2 linked regions of the Homo sapiens genome follow. The protein of the gene in region 1 purifies or fractionates together with the protein of each later gene. This does not show direct contact. Each region holds a gene or a part of one and is shown on either strand. Other genes may lie near its edges. The genes, in order: RD3L and WRAP73.

Region 1 (4,179 bases):
TCTGATGTAAACAACGTCTACTCTTCATGGCTCACTTGAAAGGAAAAGCAACAGAAGAAACAAATACTATAAAAGGGAAAACCACTATGCAGTCGTTTCACAGAGAACTGGGGAGTAAAAGACCTTTTATACTATCTACTCTTTAGCAAAAGACAAACACTTGCATAGGAAATTAGCACAGGCCAGCGCAGTGGCTCATGCCTGTAATCCCAGCACTTTGGGAGGCTGAGGCAGGTGGATTACTTGAGCCCAGTTTACGGACCAGCCTGGGCAACACAGGGAGACCTTATTTCTACAAAAAAAAAAAAAAAAGAAATGTATGTGTGTGTGTATATATGTGTGTATTATATATGTGTGTATATTTATATATACATATATAATACATATACATATGCGTATATATACTTATGTGTATATATACATATATGTACATATATAAAATACATACACATATGTACATATATAAAACATATATGTATGTACATATGTGCGTGTGTATATATTTTTTTAAACTAGCCAGGCATGCCGTAGCATGCACCTGTGGTGGCATGCACCTATGGTCCTGGCTATTCAGGGGGCTGAGGTGGGAGGATCACTTGAGCCCAGGAGGTCGAGGCTACAGTGAGCCGTGATCATGCCACTGCACTACAGCCTGGGTGACACAACGTGACTCTGTCTCAAAAAAAAGAAAGAAAGAAAAAAGAAATAGCACAATAATGACCATTACAAACCAATATGCACCTAAATAGTAAATATAAGTTTTTCATCCTCAGCTCCAAAAAAAAAACACGAAAATGATTTTTCTACGATGAATTATAAGATTTTGTTTAGAATTTTGTATGTTCTTATGCCTCTATTTTTCCCTGACAACCAATTACTGCCTTATTACCATATTTTCAGAGATTATAAAGTATATTTTAAAGTTATCTAGCTGTTTATTATGTCCCCTAGCATTTCAACTTGCTTAAATATACAAATTTAACTATTTTGAAAAAACCAAAATGAATACAAAATGTAACATTTGCTAAATATTTCACAATTATAATTCACATCAGCATTCTTTACCTATTTCACTCAATTACAATGAGTTTTCTCAGAATGTATGTTTTGCAAATAGTCAAGTCTAATCTATTTTTCCTGTTTTCACTAGAGGGGACAGTGACCCGGCTTCCAAATGGCCTGAAAGTTAAGCTGAAGAATAAAAGCAACGTGGCTATTTTTAGAGCTCTACAGGCATAAAAATACAGCACTAAACTGTGACCTACAGCTATGCACAGCAAAGCATCACATCACGCGACAGTCTTCACTCTAGCTCGGAGCGCATCTATGGTGCTTTAGACGACCATTCTTCGTTTCACTACCAAAGACATGTCGGAATGCATTTAGGACCAGCATCTATAGCTGCTGGCATTTTTTTCAAATAGACTGAGCTACATTGAAAAGGCAGACCATTATATAACTTGTGAAGATTAAATAGTCAGTTATTTTTGTCATTTCTTCTAGCTTACTTACAAGGTGAATTAATGAGCATTCTCTCCAAATGAAGACATCACAGCCTCATTCCTAACACAGAAAGTTATTTATTTCAAATACAGTTTCGGTGGGTAAATAAGGTGGCGCATTCCTTCTACAGAGGACACACCTAGGAGAGCAAGATACGTCCCAGTGAAACACAGCTTCGTCACCAACTTCAGTCAACTCTTTGGCAACATCACATCAGCCCATCAACTTAACAGGTAAGCTTTAAACCTTTTCTGTCCAAAACATAAATCAAAAGTATCTGTAGGCAGCACTTGCCCCGACATTAATATTTTAAGTCTCTTAAGAACTTTTCACAGCAAGTGTTAGTGTTATTTTCGGATATCATTCAGTCTATATGTTATCTCTGACTTTGTATATCTAATTTCTGCTAAGCTACATAAAAGCATTTTCAAAGCTTGGTTTCTGCCACTGACCTAGTTAAAAATTAAGACGTTAATCCATGTTCTAATCTTATTTTGACCTGCATAGCTAAATGTGAAAAAAAATCGTGCACTTTTCGGGCAAATTTATTGTAAAGAAACAAATATTTGCTCAGAAGAACATAACATTTTGAGCAAATAAACAAGTGAAAATATTTCCATAGGCTAAAAATGCCACTTTTTGGCTGGATGAAATGGCCCAAAAACGATTCCTACAAACCCACACACTATCCTGGCTCAGACATAGTGACAAAGACTCTGCTTCGGGAATTAAAATGGCACCTAAAGGAGCGAGAGAGATTAATACAAGAAATCGAAAATGAACAAAAAGTGAAAAAAACAGGTGTGGATTACAACTGGCTCAGAAACTACCAGAATCCCCACACAACTATCCCAGTGACTGAACAAAGACAACTTGAAGTTCTTTGCTCACAAGTTCAACCTTGCCAAACTGGAACTATTCTCAGCAGGTAAAAATACTATGTTCTCTTATGATTCCTGCTACTGCTAAGTCCAAGTTCCTCATATATTTTGACTAGAAACTGTATTCTATCATGTAAATTCTTTAACTGTGTAGATGTCTGGTGAGCAATTGTTTTAAATTACATTTAAAATTTCTTTACTAGAAGCATAATTTTAAAACAACATGCAAAATACTCAAAAGGTGGGTAACTTGTATACATTATTCAAGCTGTATTTTGGAGATAAAGAGATATAACAAAAAATGTTCTAAACTGAATATTCATTACCATTTCCCCTCTAGATTTCGAGAAGTTTTGGCAGAAAATGATGTACTGCCATGGGAAATAGTCTACATCTTCAAGCAAGTTCTGAAAGACTTCCTAAGCAGCTCTGACAGAGGGAGTGAGCAAGAGGACCTGGAGGACTCAGGGAGCATGGACTGCTCTGCTCCTTCTGTGATCCAAGGTGACAGCTCCAAGAGGGCAGACAAAGATGAAATACCCACCATTTCCAGTTACGTAGACAAAAACACAAAGGACAGGTTCCCAGTGTTCTCACACAGAATATGGAACCTACCATATTATCACCCATCTAGTTAAGTTACTTACAACTAGAGGGGTTTTTATGAACACCTTAGAACTCCTAATATTAAGAATAAGAAAAAGTGATGTGACTTCAAGTTTTTCTTTGTTACAAGGTCAGTATCCTGTGGATGTAGCCTATGTTTTAAATAGTGTTCTTTTTTTAACCACTCTAAACATGCTATGTTTTCATTGAATAGTATGCTTTTAACTAAAATGTTTCCTAAGTATTTTGAAAAAATGTTTGCAGTATTTTCTTATACCTCAAACCCACCTCACAGGAACTAAAGCAACTTTAGTATGAAGTCTGACAAATTCTGTACAAAACTTAGATATTAACCTTGACTTTTATTCTACAATGAAGCTACATATAGAATTAAATAAATTATTAATACGAATCCTATCTTTACAACATAACAGAAATGAGAAGTCAACATCCCATTATACGATCATTCTCAGCAGGGGATGGGGAGAAGGGCGGTGAGGGAAAAAATATCATGCAGTTTAAAAATGAAGCAGGGCTTTAACCCAACGCTCAGCTTTGGTTTTAATCACAGTACTTTTAAGCTCAACATTAAGGGAACGTGTAATAAAACTCAGCTCTATCAGTAAAGATAAATAGACTGATTTAGCAACATGAGTAGCTGCTACTCTCAAAGAAAAACATTCACTGTTGGTGAATAATTTAAACTTATACTCTGGTGAAATAGCAAAATATTTAATATACAAAATCTGGCTTTTCATAACTTTATTAAAAGTAGGAAATTATACATTAGTCAGATTTTTTTTATAAAGTGATACAATTCATTCTTAAAGTTAAGTCCAAGGAACCTAATTATAACTTTATATTTGAAGATTTACTGGTTTTCTTTCATCTAAAAAGAAAAAAATATACGTATCAAAATTGGAACTAGCTGGGTGTGGTGGCACATACCTGTAGTCCCAGCTACTCAGGAGGTTGAAGCAGGAAGCTCACTGGAGCCCAGGAGTTAAAGGCTGCAGTGAGCTATGATCACACCACTGCACTCCAATCTGGGCAACAGAGAAAGACCTTGTCTCAAAAAAAAAAAAAAAAAAAAACACTTTTTTTCAAAAAGACTAGAACTAAATATACACCACAAAAAAAAAAAAAAAAAAAAAAAAAAACCCTCCTAACTTTATTCTCCCTGCGTTCT
Region 2 (3,820 bases), on another chromosome or scaffold:
GCACCCGGTTGTGTGTTCAGGAGACTTGGTGAAAAGGACGCGTGCCCAGGTGTTTTAAAAGTGAATATGCTGTCACATTTGAGCCCTTTTCCTTGTCCTGTGTGATGGTGTTTGCGCATGTGTGTGCCACGTCGGGAGTTGGGGGGACGTGGAAGTTCACCTTGACTGAGGGCCTGCATTAGGCAGGGCGCTCTGCCAGGTGCCCAGGCACAGAGGGCACTGCCCCCACAGCAGACATATGAACACGATTCCAGCACAATCCATCATTAAGGTAGAGCAACCTCTGGAATGCTGTCAGAGTGCAGAACCCGGGATCCAGGCAGTGCTCTGGAAGGGACTTGTCTGAGCTGGGTCTAAAGGAGTGAGCCTGGCCAGGCAAGGAAAGGTGAGGGGGAGAGTGTGCACATGAGTGCAGGTGCGGGGAGACCAAGCCACCTTCGGGGGCTGGCCAGGCAAGGAAAGGTGAGGGGGAGAGTGTGCACACGAGTGCAGGCGCGGGGAGACCAAGCCGCCCTCGGGGGCTGGCCAGGCAAGGAAAGGTGAGGGGGAGAGTGTGCACACGAGTGCAGGCGCGGGGAGACCAAGCCGCCCTTGGGGGCTGGCCAGGCACTGACGCTGGCATCTGTGGCGGTGCAGCCCCAGCAGCAGCTCTACAGGGATTTCATGCATTTCCAGGATAGAGCTGTTGAGATTTTGTCAATTTCTATATAAGGAAATTAAGTGCGTTAAGAACATCAGTCATAAATGCAATTATTTATTTACGAAAATATTTTCCAAATTTAATGTTTCCCCCCCTTCCTTTGGAAGCATTTTGATACGGACACCCAGGATCTCACAGGGATTGAGTGGGCCCCAAACGGCTGTGTGCTGGCAGTGTGGGACACCTGCTTGGAGGTATGAAGATGACCAGGTGACATGTTTGCTTTCGAGAGCTTTTCCCGGAATTTCATGCTTTCTGAATGCTGCAATATAGTTTGCTTTATCTTATTTCAGATAACAAGTTGAGCTTTGTTTTAAAAGACAGGGTCTTGCTCTGTCACCCAGGCTGGAGTGCAGTGGTGTGATCACGGCCCACTGCAGCCTCGACCTCCTGGACTCAAGTGATCCTCCTACCTCAGCCTCCCAAGTAGCTGGGACCACAAGCATGCACCACCACGCCCGGCTAATTTTTGTATTCTTTGTAGAGATGGGGTTTCACCGTGTTGCCCAGACTGCTCTTGAACTTCTGTGTTCAAGTGATCTGCCAGCTTCGGCCTCCCAAAGTGCTGGGATTACAGGCGTGAGCCACAGTGCCCGGCCGAGTTGAACTTTTATCAGCGAGCCATTAGGTTGACCTCCCAATTTCCCCTTTTTCCTCATGCTCTCACTGCCTCTCCGTGACTATCTCAGTACTAGCTGGCAGTTCCAGCTTTTCCACGGCCACGCGGACAGTCCTGCCAGCTTTGTGCTATCTGCACCAATGTCACTCTGCAGCACCCGCGTCTGTGGTGTGTTCCTGGCGACGGGGGTGTATTCATTATTAACTGAAATGTCTCATCTGCAGTACAAGATTCTGCTGTACTCATTGGATGGCCGGTTGTTGTCCACGTACAGCGCTTACGAGTGGTCCCTGGGCATCAAGTCTGTGGCCTGGAGCCCCAGCAGTCAGTTCCTGGCAGTTGGGAGCTATGATGGAAAGGTGGGAACCAGTGCAGGGCACTCAGGAAGTCCGACCGCCCAGCGGGCCGGGCCCTGCCTCACCTGTGCATGGTTTCCTTCCTCAGGTGCGCATCCTTAATCACGTGACTTGGAAAATGATCACGGAGTTTGGGCATCCTGCAGCCATTAATGATCCCAAGATAGTAAGTCTGGAACACGTGTTTCTGCCTGAGCAGGCTGTTGGGGAGGGCGGTGGGAAACTGCTCCTTCACTTTGCTTTCTTGATTGTGGTTTATTATTTAACCGGGCACTTCCATCACCGTAAACTTGCTACTGTGACATTTCACGCGTCTGGCCCTGCCCTGGCCTTTGTTCTTCCTCCTCCACGCTGCCCAAAGGGTCTGAAGTGGGCCTTGCCCTGGCCTGTCCTCTGCCGCTGCCACCCCAGTCCAGTTTTCTCCTTTGTGGTCTGTCTGGATGCAGATCCCTGTGCTGTACAGAGTGGCCAGGGTCTCCTGCCCCCAAACACTGGGCATCTGCTGTCGTGCCAGGCACTGTGCTCTGGGCCGCAGCCAGAGAAGAAGAGACAGACCCCTGCACTTGCAGAGTGCGGCTGGAGAGACAGGGAAGGGGCTGGAGAGCTGGGTGTCTCCACGGGGTGGCAGGGAGTGGCCACCAGCGAGGGATCGCAGGCACAGATGCTGCACCAGTGATCAGGGACTCGGGGAGGGAGCGTTCCAGGCCAAGGGAACAGGAAATGCAAAGGCCCCGAGGAGTGGGCCACGCATCCATGTGTGCAGCGGGCACTGCGCTGGGAGCCAGAGACAAATGCTGCCCTCCTGGTGTTGACCTGTAACCGACAGAGCTGAGTGAAAGGCGGCTTGGATTCGATGAAGAGGCCAGTGAGTGGCTGGGGCTGCGCATGCCAGATCAGCCACTGCCGGGGATGCATCCTGGAGGGGTGTTTAAGTGAAGACCAGGAGGAGGAGCTGCGCGGTGTCTGGGCAGAAAGGGTGTTTCAGGCAGAGGGGCCTCCTGACGTGGCCAGTGGCTTGTGTGGCTGGAGGCCAGGGTGTCTGGACAGGTGAGCCCGAGCAGGGCTGGCCACACAGGTCCTGAAGGTTTGCCTGTGATTCCTGCATTCTCCAAATCCCTTCGCCACACAGCAGCAGAGCATGCTTTAAAGGCATGAACCAGGCCAGGTGACTCCCTTACCTGGGGCTCTTCAGGGGCGTAGGGGCTGCCCGCCTTCCACTGAGCCTGGGCCGCTGTCCTTTGCTTGCCAGGCTCTCGGGCACAGATGCCCCCACCTCGGGTCTGTGTCTGCTGCTCCCGGGGCCTCTGCTGTGTTGGTGCAAGTGTTCTCTGTATCCTCTTATCACGGAGGGAAGGCTGAGCCCACTCCCTTGCTGGATGATGGTGGCTGCAGTGGTCTCCCGTCTGTAATCACAGGGCACACATTTGCTGCCTGTGTCTCAAAGGGTGGGCTCCTCAGCAGGACACGAGAGAGGGTGGCTGGGTGATCTCAGCTCTCGGGACTGCGGGGTTCGTGCTTCCGTCTCTCCCGGTGGCAGCAGGACCAGCTGTCATGGCAGGCACACCTGTTGACCATGCGCTGTCATGGGCATTTGCCACGTCCATCCTTGGCTTCCGGGTCCCTGTCCTGAGCCGGGCGTGGCCACCTTGTGTCTTTCAGGTGGTGTATAAGGAGGCCGAGAAGAGCCCACAGCTGGGACTGGGCTGCCTCTCCTTCCCGCCGCCCCGGGCCGGGGCCGGCCCTCTCCCGAGCTCAGAGAGTAAATGTAAGTAGCACATGTGATGTCATTTGTTTTCCTTTTTTAATGCAAGATTCCTCGTTGTCCAGATAAACTTCGGATGTTCCTTATGTTTAAAAAAAAAAACTTTTTTTCCCTTCCATGCTTCCAGCCAGTGTGCCCCTCAGCCTGTTGGCTGGAGGTTGACTAGGGTCTGAATTGCGCAGTGGGCCGTGAAGGTGCGGCTTCTGTTACTGAATATGAGCCCTGGAGACCCGGATCTGACAGCGGGAGCTCCGAGGGGATGTTTTTCCGGAGCTCCGAGAATGATGTTTTTCAAAGAAACACTTTTCCGTGGGTGGCGCTCAGAGTGGGTCTGGAACCCGGCGGTGCTCCCGAGCGCTGTCTCCGGCTTGAGGCCCGGTTCT

The links.
Region 2: the proteins of RD3L (region 1) and WRAP73 purify together in Homo sapiens (co-immunoprecipitation; one large-scale study listed by IntAct). This does not show direct contact.

The regions. Positions count from the first base shown.
Region 1 is NC_000014.9:103,939,649-103,943,827, reverse strand, and holds RD3L (protein RD3-like), read left to right. Parts: upstream 1-1,298; 5' UTR 1,299-1,736; intron 1,737-2,125; 5' UTR 2,126-2,132; coding exon 2,133-2,431; intron 2,432-2,724; coding exon 2,725-3,022; 3' UTR 3,023-3,402; downstream 3,403-4,179.
Region 2 is NC_000001.11:3,633,018-3,636,837, reverse strand, and holds part of WRAP73 (WD repeat-containing protein WRAP73), read left to right. Parts: intron 1-807; coding exon 808-894; intron 895-1,543; coding exon 1,544-1,678; intron 1,679-1,763; coding exon 1,764-1,841; intron 1,842-3,334; coding exon 3,335-3,440; intron 3,441-3,820.